2 separate regions of the Homo sapiens genome follow, and region 1 is linked to region 2. The links come from fine-mapping of genetic effects on gene expression. Tissue or cell type: whole blood. Region 2 holds a variant in brackets; the other region holds the start of a gene. All regions are shown on one strand. Distances are between the middles of the regions.

Region 1 (8,185 bases), 43 kb before region 2:
CATCCTTCACCTATTCAATCTTCTTCTCCCTCCCCTCAATCCTCTTGCAACCACTGATCTTTTTACTATTGCTATAATATTGCCTTTTCCAGAATGTCATATAACTAGAATCATACAGTATGTAGCATTTTCAGACTGGCTTCTTTCACTTAGCAATATGCATTTAAGTGTCATACATGTCTTTTTGTGGCTCAAGAACTCATTTCTTTTTATTGCTGAATAATATTCCATTGTATGGATGTACCACAGTATGTTTATTCATTTAACTACTGAAAGATATCTTGGTTGCTTCTAGTTTTTGGAGTTAGGAATAAAATTGCTATAAACATTTGTGTGTAGGCCAGGTGTGGTGGTTCATGCCTGTAATCTGTAACCCCAACACTTTGGGAGGCTGAGGTAGGGGGATCCCTTGAGGCCAGGAGTTAAAGACCAGCCTGGGCAAAATAGTGAGACCTTGTCTCTACTAAATTTTTTTTTTTTTTTTTTTTTTTTTTTTTTGTGAGATGGAGTTTCGCTCTTGTTGCCCAGGCTGGAGTGCAATGGCACGATCTCAGTTCACCGCAACCTCCGCCTCCCAGGTTCAAGTGATTCTCCTGCCTCAGACTCCCGAGTAGCTGGGGTTATGGGCACGCGCCACCACTCCTGGCTAATTTTGTATTTTTAATAGAGAAGGGGTTTCTCCATATTGGTCAGGCTGGTCTTGAAATCCTGGCCTCAGGTAATCCACCTGCCTCGGCCTCCCAAAGTGCTGGGATTACAGGAGTGAGCCACCACGCCTGGCCATCTACTAAATTTTTTTTTAATTAGCTGGGCTTTTTGGCACCTGCCTGTGTTACCAACTGCATGGGAGGCTGAGGTGAGAGGATTGCTTGAGTCCAGGAAGTTAAGGCTAAAGTGAGCTGTGACTGCACCACTGCATTCCAGCCTGGATGACAGAGCAAGACCCAGTCACTAAAAGAAAAAAAATCTAGTTCTCACAAGCAATATATATATATATATATATATATATATATTTTTTTTTTTTTTTTTTTTTTTTTTTTTTTTTGAGACAGAGTCTCACTCTGTCAACCAGGCTGGAGTTCAGTGGTGCAATCTTGGCTTACTGCAACCTCCGCCTCCTGGGTTTAAGCAATTCTCCTGCCTCAGTCTCCTGAGTGGCTGGGATTACAGGCGTGCCCCACCACGCCTGGCTAATTTTTTTGTATTTTTAGTAGAGACGGGGTTTCACCATGTTGGTCAGGCTGGTCTTGAACTCTCCTAACCTTGTGATCCGCCTGCCTCGGCCTCCCAAAGTGCTGGGATTACAGGCATGAGCCACCGTGCCTGGCCCTCACAAGCAATATTTCAAAGGTATATTTCTGGGTTTTATTTCCATGATAATTATGTCTGCTGTGGGGAAGACTTATCTTTCAAAGAATTTTAATATTTAAATCAATGGGAAGAGAAAAACCAGGCAGTGGGATGGGTGTGCCATATGTAAATTACATTATACTAGTTTGTTTTGCAATGGTGTTTTCATTTTTTCTCAGGTATACCAGCCATATAATTATTTTTAACGATATGTTACATTTTTATTCTCTAAAATTATGTCACTCATTTGCCAAACATTTACTGAGTACTTGCGCAAGAGAAAGGAAGGGACAGTGACATTCGTTCTTCTATTCGACACAGATTTATTGAGCCTATCTTGCAAAGAGCACTTTGCAAGAAGACTGGGATACAACTTTAGACAATCTATACAGTCTCTGTCCTCAGGGAGTTTACAGTCTCATGAAAGAGAGAATCTGTAAACAGTTACACAAATTACTGTATTTAAATTCTATGAAGGAAAGGAATGTTATGAGATGTGTCATTATAGATGTAACTTTCAATACTTTTCTCACCTAATTATCACAATCACTGATGTAGTTTACAAATGAGGAAAATCAGGCTGAGACTGAACTACATGCCAAGGGCCCGAGAGCAAGTAAGTCCTTGCAAGTGAAAAACAGAATGTCTAATTTAGGTCTATGTAATTCTAAAGATCATGCTTGAAAACATTGTATTATTGCCTAAATTTCACGAAACTGTGAGGGACAGACCTTATTTTGATTTTATTAATAAGAAAACTGATGCTGAGAGGAACTAGAACTAAAATCTCTTGAACAATCCCCTTATTTTTCTATTATGTTATAAGCTTCCTCAAAACATGTATGGCTTGTAAGTTTGATGATACAAACAAACCCTACATGTAGAAACTGAATAAATTTTTTGTACTTTAAAAAATATAGGATTGTTGTTGAAACAAACTACCATTAAGCAAAGCACTATATTTTAACATAATTTTGGCAAATGTCTTACATCTCTCTTCTTTGCTGATTTTGTTATTTTTCTATGTTAATCACATATTTCATTGGACAAGTCTATTGCTATGGGTGAGAACATAGAAGGAAACAGTTCAAACAAGCAAACTCACTCTTTATCAAATTATTTTGTGGAGGAAATGTTCCTGGCCAGGCGCAGTGGCCTCACGCCTGTAATCCCAGCAGTTTGGTAGGCTGAGGCGGGCGGATCACTTGAGTCTAGGAGTTTTAGACCAGTTTGGGCAAAATGGCGAAACCCCGTCTCTACAAAAAACACAAAAATTAGCTGGATGTGGTGGCGCGCACCTGTGGTCCCAGCTACTCGGTAGGCTGAGGTGGGAGCATCACCTGAGCCTGGGAGTTCGAGGCTTCAGTGAGCTGAGATCACACCACTGCACTTCTGCCTGGGACACAGAGACCCTGTCTGGAAAGAAAAGGAAAAAGGAAAAAAAAAAAAAGGGTTCCAATAAAAATTTCAATTTATGTCATTCAGAATTTCACGGATTTTTTTCAGCTATTGCAGATTCTTCAGATGACTCCATCAATGTAATAAGAACCTTGAATTCTTCTTTGCAGAGGAAAAACTGACAATATATTCATCTTTATGTGGGGTGCAGATGGGGAAAAGATTTTTAAAAGCACAATAGAAAAGGAAAGCAAGATTACTTTTATTTAAAAAACCTAGATACCTCTGCTTAAGCCTTTCTGTTGTCAAGTTGTTTGCAGCAAAAAACAGGGATATTGCAAATAGAAAAAATATGAAAGAAATCACATACATAGTGCAGGAAATATTATTAGTAATAGATTTAGGACAGAATAAATTGCCCAACTGTAACTTCGTTTATCTTTCTGCTAGAGGATCTGGTGGCCACAACAACTTATGCACATTTTCAAAGATAAATCATGGACATATTTAATAAAGATTACTTCTCTTTGCTTATTACTATCATTTGGCTTACAATGGAGCACGCAGTAACTACCTTCCTTGCCTTTCTTGAGATTCTCCTTTGGCTGCTTACACAGGAAACCAAGGCGGGGAGTGCCACGGGTGATCTCATGCTGGCATGACGTCAAGAACTCTTGACGTCAGAAGGCGGTTGCCACGGACACCGTTCGCCACCGACGGCAGAGTCGTGAAACCCCATCACTACCACACTCGTCTCCGTTTCGGCCTCTGCAGGGTGTAAGCTGCTAAAGAAGCTTCAACCTTAAGGGGGCCTCAGGGAGAGAGTTGTGCTCCTGCCGCCGAGAGCTCCACCTTCGTGGCTCTGGGTCCGGGGCCCCGGCCTGTGGCGGCGAGCGGCGGCCGCTGGAGACGAGCGGCGGCGGCAGGCGGCCAGCCCGGGTCTGCCTCGCTCCGTGCAGGGCCGGGAGAGGGATCCGCCATATTGGAGCTGGGGCCGAAGGTGCCTTGGAGCCGCGGCGCGAGGCGGGTGGAGGTGGCGGCCCTGGCCTGGATCGGGAAGGAGTCGGCTCTGCCCTGGCCCGCAAGGCTGGGGAGCTAATGAGCCTCTCTGGCTAGTCTCCTCCCCGTCCACTCCCTCCACTTTCTGCCGCCGGGACCCGGCTGGGAGCCGGCTGTGGCAGTGGCAGTGGCAGTGGCAGCGACAGGATGTTCTCCAAGAAGCCGCACGGGGACGTGAAGAAGTCCACCCAGAAGGTGCTAGACACCAAGAAGGACGCACTGACTCGCCTCAAGCACCTGCGCATCGTCATCGGTGAGGAGCGAGGGGTGGCAGCGCCGAGGCCTGGGTTGCCCGGCCTTCCCTCTCCTGGGAGCCCCTGCGGACTCTCTCTCGGGACCTGGCGCGGTGCAGGAGAGGGCAAATCGTAGCCTCTGCGGAGACGCGGGAGGGTGAATAATTCGGAGAAGCGAAAACTTGGCAGTTGGCAGCACTGATTACTGTTAACACAGTAATCTAATTTTGAGTTAATAGTCTGAACTTATTTTTTAAAATTGGTATTACTCTAAAAACTTAGATCTTTAAGACTTTGTGGGGAGACCTGGCGTTGTGGATAATGGTGTTTATAGGATATGTTTGCCAGATGACTACTGCCAACCCCACCCAAGTAAAAAGAAAAATAAAATCCTCTCTCAGACAATATAAACCTTAATCTTTCAAGTTTCTTGGCAGATGAAGACAAGGAGGTAGCAGTTACACCTCTTTGGGAAGTGGGCGGTTCCCAAAAAGCTGTGGGAAGGAGCCCCGCCCTTTTGTTAATGCACCTTGTTCATCACTAGTCATTTAGAGGGAGAACTATTATAGGTAGTTTAACTCATCCTTTGCTTCTCGAGAATTGTATATAATTCTATTTTTAATTAAAAATATTTTTTTTATCGTCTGCCCTTAAGTTCTGTTTTGCTGGTAGACCAAACAGTGCTCTAAGTTTTGAATATAATGTTAATCGACTCTTTTGAATACTTAGTCATTTGGTAGGCTGATAAAGGCTGTAATAATACTTATGGAACATCTGGTCCAGTAGTTGGATTTTTTAGATGAAGACATTTGAGATGAAAAGGAAAATTATTTCGCCTGTGTTGATACTTAGAGTTAATGGTGGAACTGGCTGAAGAAGATGCATTCATCCAGATGCCTGAATCCTAGTTCAGAGTTTATCTCGAGCTGTCCTCCTGATGCGTATTTGTTTTGGAAAGTGATGTTTATTTAGTGAAAAAAGTAAGTCCCTTATTTGAGGTACATGTTTCTCTAGTCTATTGTTTACTCATACCACCAGGATACCACCAATATTACCCAACATTTCTATGATGCTTTACTGTTTACAGTGATTTCACGTAAATTATGATAATCCTTGCAATAACTCTATAGGTAGATGATATTATTCTCCATTTTTTACCAACAAAAAAGCTGAAGTTTGGGAACATCGAGTAGTCAGCCAGCTACCAGGAGGCTGAGTCAGAATTGGAACCCAGATTTTGTGTCTCTAGTTTGTTTTTTTACTCTTTCTACATTTATGACAGCTAATCTTTGTCACAAGTAAATTGTATTTATTCCAGTGGAGTAGTAAGAAAGCAGTTAATCCAGTTTAGCGCTATAAAAAGCTCAGTTTTCAAGAAAATGTAAAGCTTCTAAATATAGTGGAGATTGTGATCTTTTTGTTTTCATTCTTCTTGAGAGTTAAGCCATTGAAATAAAGATTTAGCCGAGAATAGGACACAGTAAGTTAATGTGTGAATGCAGGCGAGGGATTCACAGGTAATGGCAGTTTGAAATTGAACACTTAATGGAGCTTGACACCTACTTGGGATAAGCTGTAGGTTAGGTAATGACACAGCTATAAAGTTGAGTTCCAATAAAGTATCGAGATTTCCTAAATTAAAGGCCATACTTTATTTATAGACTGGTTAAGGAATTATTTATATATACTTTTTTGGCATAGAGTTTTTTTCCATCTGGCAGACATGGAAAATTAAAAGGTAAATTAAGAGAGAGGTCACACATATAAGGCATTTTGTAGGACTTAGCTTGCTTGGTTTGAAAACAAAACAAAACAAAAACAAGTCTTTTATTGTTGTCGTTATTTTGTTTGAAATACAGTTAATGTAATTTCTAAGAAAATGAATGAGAGAAAGTAGAATGACAAAAACTAGTGTCTTTTAGAGGTCTGCCAATCAGGTATTTGATTTTGCAGATGGAAAATCCTTTCTGGAAGTAGGTGCGGGCTTTAAATAAGGTAAACACAATGAGGAAACTAGTTTGCAGAGTAATTGGGCATTGCCAGTTACACAGGCTTTTGATTTTTGTTTGGTCCCATAGTTCATAGTTCATATGGGACCAAACAGAACTGCCATTCACTCAGGGTACTTATGGGAGGATTCAGTGCATCTATATGTATGAGAACATAATCATAATTTAAACATCCGCTGTAAACTTTTTTCCTGGCATGTGTTCCCACTGTAGGACAATCCAAGTTAAATTTATAGAACTTGACTCTGAAGATTTAGATTTAAATCTGGTATGTTTATTGATACTGTTGCATAATTGATTTGTAAAAACTAGAAGTCAGGGTTTTCTTAAAACAGAAAAAAAAGCCTTGTCTGATTTCTAAAGCTGTTATCCTTTCTACCTACCCCCTCCCCCCCATTTTACAACTAATGGTAATGATATTATAAATTAGCACATGTAAATTGGCTAACATAATGCTTGGCATATAGTGGGTATTGACTTAGTGTTAGTTTTGTTCTACTTTACAGCTAACAGTTCAGTCCTCTTGATATAAAAATAAAAAGTGCTTATTTAGCTAAAAATATTTATTGTTAAATAATTCTGACAGCTTTATTGAGGTATAATTGGCACACAATAAACTGCACATATTTAAAGTACATAATTGAATAATTTTTACATATGTATATCTCCTGAAACCATCATAACAAATATTTAAAATATCCAATCAAGATAACAAATATAGACAGTGACAATCAGGATAATATATGTATAATCAGCTGGGTGCGGTAGCTCATGCCTGTAATCCCAGGACTTGGGGAGGCCGAGGTGGGCGGATCACGAGGTCAGGAATTCAAGACCAGCCTGGCCAACAGAGTGAAACCGGGTCTCTACTCTACTGAAAATACAAAAATTAGCCAGGCATGGTGGCGTGCACCTGTAGTCCCAGCTACTCAGGAGGCTGAGGCAGGAGAATCGCGTGAACCTGGGAGGCAGAGGTTGTGGTGAGTCGAGATCACGCTACTGCACTCCAGCCTGGGCAACAGAGCGAGACTCCGTTTCAGGAAAAAAAAAAAAAAAAGAAAAAGAAAAAATATATATATGTATGTATGTATAACCTCCCAAAGTTTTCTCATGCCCCTTTGTAATCTCTTTCTCCCACCTCAGTTGTACCCTCCCACCTTTCCTGAGCAACCACTAATCTGCTGTCACCCTAGATTAGTTTGCATTATCTAGAGTTTTATATAAATGGGATTATACAGCATAAAAATGGAATTATGCAGTACGGTCATTTTATGTTTGATTTCTTTTTTTTTTTTTTTTGACACGGAGTCTCACTCTGTCACCCAGGCTGGAATGCAGTGGCGCGATCTCGGCTCACTGCAACCTCCGCCTCCCGGGTTCAAGCAATCCCCCTGCCTCAGCCTCTTGAGTAGCTGGGATTACAGGCGCACGCCACCAAGCCTGGCTAATTTTTTCTTTTTTTTTTTTCTTTTGTATTTTAGTAGAGACAGGGTTTCACTGTGTTGCCCAGGCTGGTTTCGAACTCCTGAGCTCAGGCAGTCCCCCCGCCTCAGCCTCCTAAAGTGCTGGGATTACAGGCATGAGCCACGGCGCCCCGCCTTTTTTTTTTGTATTCCTAATAGAGATGGGGTTTCACCATGTTGGTCAGGCTGGTCTTGAACTCGCGACCTCGTGATCCGCCTGCCTCAGCCTCCCAAAGTGCTGGGATTACAGGCGTGAGCCACCACACCTGGCCTTGGTTTCTTTTTCTCAGCCTCATTATTTTGAAATTAATCTGTATCCTGGTATGTTAATAGTTCATTGCTTTTTTTTCTTGTGACAGGGTCTTCTGTCACTCTGGCTGGAGTACCGTGTTGCAAACGTGGCTCATTGCAGCCTTGACCTTTCAGGGTCCAGCGATCCTCCTTCCTCTACCTCCCTAGTAGCTGGGACATGCACCACCGTGTATGGCCAATTAAAAAAAATTTTTTTTTGTAGAGATGGGGTCTCATGTTGCCCAGGCTGGTTGCAAGCTCCTGGACTCAAGCAATCCTCCCATCTCAGCCTCCCAAAGTATTCTGGGATTACAGGTGTGAGCCACTGTACCTAACTGTTAATCTCTTTTTATTTCTGAATAGTTACTCACTATTTATTTAT
Region 2 (8,185 bases):
TTCCATACCTGAGGTAAATCCTATTTACTCACTATTTATAGTCCTTTTTATTTGTTGCTTACTTCAGTTTGCCTCTCTGTTTATGAGGAATATTGTATTGTAGTTTGTCAATCTTTATTTGGCTTTACTATTAAGATAGCTATAGAAGTTTAGAAGTGGTCCCTCTTGTTTTCTGAAACAGTTTGTGAATGAGTGGTAGGTAACATTTTCTTCTTTAAATAGTTGATAAAATTCAAAAGTGAGACCATTTGTACTTGGACTTTTCTTTGTGATATTTGTAATTATTACTTCAATTTCTTGTTATAGGTTTATTCAGATTTTATATATCTCTCTGAGTCAGTTTGATAATTTGTTTCTTTCTAGGAACAAATTTGTTAGTAGAAAGTTGTTCAAGTTATTCCTTAGAGTAATCCTTTCGATTCCTATAGGGTCAATAGTGATGTCCCCTTTCATTCTTTTTTTTTAATATTACATAAACTTTTTATTTATTCTTTAATGGTTTCAACTTTATTTTTAGATTCAGGGGATGCATATGCAGGTTTGTTACATGTGTATATCTCATGATGCTGAGGTTTAGGGTATGACTGATCCTGTCACCCAGGTGGTGAACATAGTACCTAACTGTTTTTCAACCCTTGTCCCTCTAGTACTTCCCAATGTCTATTATTGCCATTTTTACGTCCATGAGTACCCAGTGTTTAGCTCCCACTTACAAATGAGAGTATATGATATTTGATTTTCTGTTCCCATGTTAATTTGCTTTAGAATAATGGCCTCCAGCTGTATCCATGTTGCTAAATGTTGCTGCACCGGACATGATTTCATTCTTTTTAATGGCTATATCCGCTTTCATCCTTGATTTTGTTAATTTATGTCTTCTCTCCTATTTTATTGGCCAGTCTAACTATTTGTCATATTTGTTGATCTTTTCAAAGAACAAACTTTTGATATCATTGATTTTCTTTATACTTTTTCTGCTTTCTATTTTCTTGTTTTCCATTCTAGTCTTTGATATTTTATGTGTGTGTATATATATATATATATATATATATATATATTTTTTTTTTTTTTTTTTTTTTTTTTTTGAGACGGAGTTTCGCCCTTGTTGCCCAGGCTGGAGTACAGTGGCACTATCTCGGCTCACCACAACCTCCGCCTCCCAGATTCAAGCGATCTTCCTGCCTCAGCCTCCCGAGTAGCTGGGATTACAGGCATGCACCACCACACCCGGCTTATTTTGTATTTTTAGTAGAGATGGGGTTTCTGCATGTTGGTCAGGCTGGTCATGAACTCCCGACCTCGGGTGATCCGCCCACCTCGGCCTCCCAAAGTGCTGGGATTAAAGACGTGAGCCACTGTGCCCTACCTATTTATTTTTTGTAGTACTGTATTTTTTTTAAGAGACAGGATCTTATTCAGTCACCAGGCTGAAGTGCAGTGCCATGATTGATCATGGTTCACTGAAGCCTTGAAATGGGCTTAAGCCATCCCCCTACTCAGCCTCTTAAGTAGCTGGGACCACAGGTGTACACCACCAGGCCCAGCTCACTTTTTAAAATTATTTTTTGTAGAGACGGGGTCTTGCTTTGTTGCCCAGGCTGGTCTCAAACCTCCGGCTTCAAGCCATCCTCCTACCCCAACCTCCCAAAGTGCTGGGATTACAGGTGTGAGCCATCATACTCAACCTCTTTTATATTTTATAAAACATTCTGTGGCAGGCATGATGCCCCATGCCTGTCATCTCAGCACTTGGCAGAGGCTGAAAGAGGATGATCACTTGAGGCCAGGAGTTTGAGACCAGCTTGAGCAACATAGTGAGACTCTGTCTTTAAAGACAAAAGAAATTTTTTTAAGCTAGCCTCACTTGTTGGTATGTGCCTGTAGTCCCTGCTACTCAGGAGGCTGAGGCAGGAGGATCACTTAAGTCCAGAAATTCAAGGGTGCAGTAAGCTGTGATCACACTGCTACACTCCAATTGGGGTGACAGAATGAGACACAATCTCTAAAACATGAAAATAAGGACAGATGTGGTGGCTCATGCCTATAATCCCAGCACTTTGAGAGCCTGAGGCAGGTGGATCGCTTGAGCATGGGAGTTCGAGACCAGCCTGGGCAACATGGTGAAACCCCATCTAGGAAAAAAATACAAAAATTATCCAGACGTGATGACTCCTTCATGTCGTCCCAGCTCCTTGGGAGGCTGATTTGGGAAGATCATCTGAACTTGGTGAGGTCAAGACTGCAGCAAGCCAAGATCATGCCACTGCACTTTTAGCCTGAGTAAAAAAATGATACCCTGTCTCAACAATAAAAAAAAATTTTAATTAAAAAAGAGAGAAATTCTGCTTCCTTTGGGTTTAATTTACTCTTCTGTTTCTAGGTTTTTGTTTATTTGTTTGTTTTTTTGAGATGGAATCTTGCTCTGTCGCCCAGACTGGAGTGCAGTGACGCTGTCTTGGCTCACTGCAACCTCTGCCTCCTGGGTTCAAGCAATTCTCCTGCCTCAGCCTCCTGAGTAGCTGGGACTATACAGGCACATGCCACCACGCCCGGCTAATTTTTGTATTTTTAGTAGAGACAGGGTTTCACCATGTTGGCCAGGATGGTCTCGATCTCCTGACCTCGTGATCCACCCACCTCAGCCTCCCAAAGTGCTAGGATTACAGGTGTGAGTCACTGCGCCTGGCCCTGTTTCTAGTTTTTTTAAGATGTAACCATAGAATATTAATCTGATAGCTTTCTTCTTTTCTGATATAGGTATTTAAAACTATAAATTTCCCTCTAAGCTTTGCCTTATATCCATCCCATAAATTTTAGCATGTTGTATATTCAATAAAAATTATTAATGTATGGCAATTATGTGATCATTGAAGAACAAGAAAGGACTTGAATAAACAGAATTTTATGCAATATTCATAGGAAATAAACTTGATAGTATAAAGGCAATAATTTTTAAAAATTTTGCATGATATATTTATCTCTACTGTGTTAGAGAGACAGAGACTAACTTTTCATTTTCAAGGATTGATGAACAATCATCCATAAGTTCTTGAAGTTGAATAACAGGAAACTTTACTTGTTTTTCAAGCCATCTGGCTACTGTAAGAAGCTGCTAGTCACAAAATGCATGTCCAGTAAACGGCAGCCCTGTGGGCAACGCTTGGTTTGAGAGTGCAACAGGGTTACTCACTGCTGACAGTCCTGCCATGTTTACAGCCTGTGTAAAAATATCATCCTGGGCACTTCCTGTTCTGTGGTCTTCTTTGATGAATTCCAGGTATGGTACTGCCTTACTCAAGGTGGTGGGAGTTAGCATACTCCAGAGTTAAAAGCATTCACAAAATCATTAGCAATGAGGCATCTCACTTTCTGTGCTTTGATGAAATAATTTTCATATTTTTATTTTAACAAGAAAACATTTCCTGAGAGAATTCTTCCTCTTACAAAATCATTGAACCCTTCTCGTCTGGTTGCAGCATACATGGCTTCAGTAGATACATCAGTGTCACATCTGTGACCATATTGTAGCCCATCAGATCTTGCTATACTCGATGCTGCTTCTGATGTGCACAATAGATGGTAGCAGACAATTGAATAAGTAATGTGAGAAAAGGATACTTCAATTGCTTTGGCCCCCTCAGACTCAAAGAGGTCAGCAGCTTTGGACCAAAGAGACTGTACTTCACTTGATAATTCCAGTACAAGATATTCCTCTGGAATACCTATACATAGTTTGCTCACATTTGTCAAACTGGGAATCATGAATGGTTTAACAGGATCCTGTGCTGTGGTAGAATCCGTAGGGTCATGTTCAGCCAGTACACCCAAGACAATTGCTGCATCATCCACACATCTGGTTAAGATTCCTTGCACTTCCATCAAATCCTCCAGGGAAATGAGACCATGATGGGAAACTAAGCCATAGTTTGGTTTGAAACCAACAAGCCCACAGTAGGCAGCAGGATTTCTGGTCAGCCCTCCAGTATCTGATCCTAAAGCCGCATAGCATGTGAATGCCGATATGGCAACTGCACTCCCACCTGAGCTTCCTCCAGTTATCAGCCAGTCTGAATCTTCATTCTCAAAGT[G/A]GAGATTCTGCTTCCTCTTTTCTCTATATTGTTTTGAATAACTCCAGGGGTTTTTAACTGGTCCAAATACGCCTTCTGCATTTCCAGATCTCATAGCAAACTCATCTAAATTTGTTTTTCCATTAGTAGAGCTCCCTAATCCAACAATTTCGGAACTACTATAGCATTACCTTTCAGCATATTTGATGCACATGTAAGACAGTAATTTTTGGCTGGCTGTAGTGGCTCACGCCTGTAATCCCAGCCCTTTGAGAGGCCAAGGTGGGTGGATCACCTGAGCCCAGGAGTTTGAGACCAGCCTGGGTAACATGGCAGTACCCCAACTCTACAAAAAAATACAAAAATTAGCTGGGTGTGGTAGTGTGCACCTGTGTTCCCAGCTACTGGGGAGGTGAGAGGATAACTTGAGACCAAGAGGCCAAGGCTGCAGTAGGCCATGATTGTGCCACTGCACTCCAGCCTGGGTGACAGAGCAAGAACCTGTCTCAAACAAATAAATTTGTTAAGTATATATATAAATATCAATATCACACAATATTTATCAATATTAAATATATATACCATGTATATCAAATATATATCATATATATGTATGTACACACACATATAACAATTCTTAACATTCCTATAGGGATTTTTAAATGTAGCCTAACAAATATATCTTAAAGTTTATATGTAAAATAAAAGCCAAAGCAATTTGGAAGAATAACAAATCGGACCAAGAGGGTGGTGGTGTTGGCTATTTTCATGCCTGATAACAAGATAAATTATAAAGTTATACTAACAAAGGCACTGTTACTGATGTAGGGATGGACAAATGGATGAATGAAAAGGAACATGGAGATCAGCCAAAGACCTAAGCTTATGTATGGAAACTTGAAATATGATTGAGATGGCATTTTAGTTCATTTGAACATCATAAATCCCGAAATAGTACTACACTTGGTTTTCCATTTGTGAAAAAACAAATTCTGTTCCACCCACAAGGAAATAATTTTCTGATAGGTTTCAGGACCTACATGTGAAAAGCAACACATAACAACTTTTTGAAGTGAGTATTTGGTTTATAATTTTAATGTAAGGAAGGATTTCTTTAGACATACAAAGAACACATAAGAAAGAAAAACACTGGCAAATTGATTATATTAAAATTTAAGGCCAGGCATGGTGTCTTATGCCTGTAATCTCAGCACTTTGGGATGGGAGGCCAAGGTGGGCAGATCACTTGAGCTCAAGAGTTTGAGACCAGCCTGGGCAACATGACAAAACCCCATCTCTACAAAAAATACAAAAATTATCCAGGCATGGTGGCATGTGCCTTTAGTCCCAGCTATCTGGGGGCTGAGGCGAGAGGATTACTTGAGCTCAGGAGGTCAAGGCTACAATGAGCCATGATCATGCCACTGCACTCTAGCCTGGGTGACAGAGTGAGAACCTGTCTCAAAATGATAATAAATAAATAAATAAATAAATAAAACTTATCTGCATCAGAAGATACCACCTCCCCACCCAACAAAAACATGATTGAATTGTTTGGGATAATGTATTTTCAATTCATAGAAATAGACACAGAATTAGTAATACAGAAGGAACTCCATATATATATATGTATATAAAGAAGGCCAGGTGTAGTGGCCCACACGTGTAATCCCAGCACTTTGGGAGGCCAAGGTGGGAGGATCCTTGAGGCCAGGAGTTCCAGACCAGCCTTGGCAACATAATGAAGCCCTCTACAAAAATTACAAAAATTAGCCAGACCTGGTGGTGCACATCTGTAGTCCCAGCTACTCAGGAGGCTGAAGTGGGAGGATCACTTGAACCCAGGAGTTTGAGGCTGCAGTGATCTATGATTGCACCACTATTTTCCAGCCTGAACAACAGAACAAGACCCCATCTCTTTAAAAAAAAAAAAAAAGAACAACTAAATTGAAAATTGTGCAAAGGATAAAACAAGGAAACCTTGAATAGCCAAATTAAAAGATGTTCAGTGTCACTAGGAAATATCAAATGAAAGCAACATTAAGATAGTTAACATACATCAGATTATCAAATATTAGAGCATCTGTCAATGTTTTGTGCTGCCAACAATATGGTACTAGAGCCCTCCCATATACGGCTGGTAGTACTGTTAATTGTTACAACTACTTTGGAGAAAATTATCTAATATTTGGTAAAGCTGAAAGTAATTTTATTCCTCTCTCTCTCTCTCTCTATATATATATATATATACACACCCCGGGGAAACTCAGGTGTGTACAGGGAATCATGAACAATAACTATTTATTACGGTACTCTTGGAATAGCAAAAATTTGAAAAAAACCAAATGTCTTAATATAAAGACGATAAATAAATTTTGGTATGTTCATACGGTGGAATAGTATGCACCTCTTAAAATGTATTAACTAGAGCTACATAGATAAGTATAGATAAATTTCTTAAGCTAATGTTGGATGTGAAAAGTAACATATAAATAACTTTTTAAAAAAATAAATGAGTTATATGAAACAGTTTATATTATTTTTTATGGATTTATAAATGTGTAGTAATAATATAAAAATATTTTTTGAAATGATTAATACCAAAGCCTAGATAATGGTTTCCTCTGGGGAAGAAAGGAACAATATGATTTGGGCCTCAGTGATACCTGTACAGTTAAGTAAAACATTGGAGATAATGCAGGTAAGTGAAATAAACATGGAACTACGTGTAGATTTATTCATACTGAGTGGTGGTCCTCTGCAGGTTTGTTCATGTTATTTTCAGTATTTTATTATAGGTTTGAAATATTTCATAATTTAAAAGAAAAAAGGAAATATTAATGACTTTTCAAAACTTAGAAAATTAGTATAATGGAAATATTCATTAGGAAATATTACAGTTAAGGATGTTCATGTGGTTAACTAAATGAAAATTTTCTATAGTGGATTTCATTTGGATAGTGATAAAAGTATTTTATTTTATTCTTAGTCTAAATAAGAGATTTATAATAGATTGTTGTGTTAAATGCAATTTCGGGCCTAGGTTTTGTTAATAAAATAAATCATGTTTAATTGCAATAAAGCATGTGTTGAAAAGGTGATTCTTTTTATATGCCCTTCTGATCCCAAGTATGGCAGAAGGATATAAAGGTCACCAAGAATAATTTGGAGGTTGCCAAGGACTTATTTAAAAGTGTTTTCAAGTCCGACCGAGAACTCTGACATTTACAAATAGATAAGATGTGAATATTTAAAATCATATTTTCTTTTCAGGATTGATTTTAAAGAAGCTACTTCACACAGGAAACTCCTTAAAGGTACAACTATGTTTACTTTCCATGACTTTAAAAATACTGAGTAGAACATACATCCCACCTGTTAACACTTTTCCTACCTAAGCTTTTTCCTAAAGATCTCTGAATTGTCTTCAGTTTATTTAATTGAAGTGAGTTCCCTTAAAATGTAGCAAGAGGCTGGGTGCAGTGGCTCACGCCTGTAATCTCTGCACTTTGGGAGGCTGAGGTGGGTGGACCACTTGAAGCCAGGAGTTTGAGACCAGCCTGGCCAACATAGTGAAACCCTGTCTCTACTAAAAATACAAAAATTAGCCGGGCGTGGTGGCACGTGCCTGTACTCACAGCTACTTGGGCAGCTGAAGCAGGAGAATTGCTTGAACCCTGGAGGCAGAGGTTGCAGTGAGCTGAGATCAAGCCGATGCACTCCAGCCTGGGCGACAGAGTGAGACTGTATCTTAAAAACAAAAACAAAAACAAAAAAAAAACGTAGCAAGAGTTTGTTTGACAAACCATTCTAGGTTGACTGGGGACATTGAAAAAACTGTTGTACTTTGCCACTCAATGGACTCATTCACCAGCAATCTTTCCTCTTTATGGTCCCCAGAAGGAAAACATTGTTTAGTCATTCAACAGATTATTCTTCATTCCACCATAGCCACTATTAGATGTAGAGGGAAGTAGGGGAGATACACATATATATATAAACATTTTTGTTTCTTTTTCATTATGCCATTGTACTGTAGTAAGAGAAGCTGCCCATTCCGAAAATATCTTGCTGTAGGTTAGGTAAAGTAACATTATTACAGGTGCTTTTGGCATCAT

The links. PIP is the estimated chance that this variant, and not a neighbour inherited with it, causes the effect.
Region 1: RALGAPA1 starts here. The variant in region 2 is fine-mapped to the expression of RALGAPA1 in whole blood (INTERVAL, PIP 0.95).

What each region holds. Positions count from the first base shown.
Region 1 is chr14:35,804,605-35,812,789 of GRCh38, reverse strand. It overlaps RALGAPA1 (Ral GTPase activating protein catalytic subunit alpha 1), which reads left to right and starts at 3,495. Exons shown (of 42, transcript NM_001346249.2): 1 at 3,495-4,060. The coding sequence starts at 3,955. RefSeq lists enhancers at 3,349-3,448, 3,285-3,845 and a silencer at 3,529-3,768.
Region 2 is chr14:35,761,909-35,770,093 of GRCh38, reverse strand. It overlaps RALGAPA1 (Ral GTPase activating protein catalytic subunit alpha 1), which reads left to right. Exons shown (of 42, transcript NM_001346249.2): 5 at 7,341-7,384. SNORA101B (small nucleolar RNA, H/ACA box 101B) reads left to right here and starts at 7,163; the gene lies at 7,163-7,294. It also overlaps the pseudogene QRSL1P3. The variant G/A (reference allele first, on the strand shown) is at 4,089.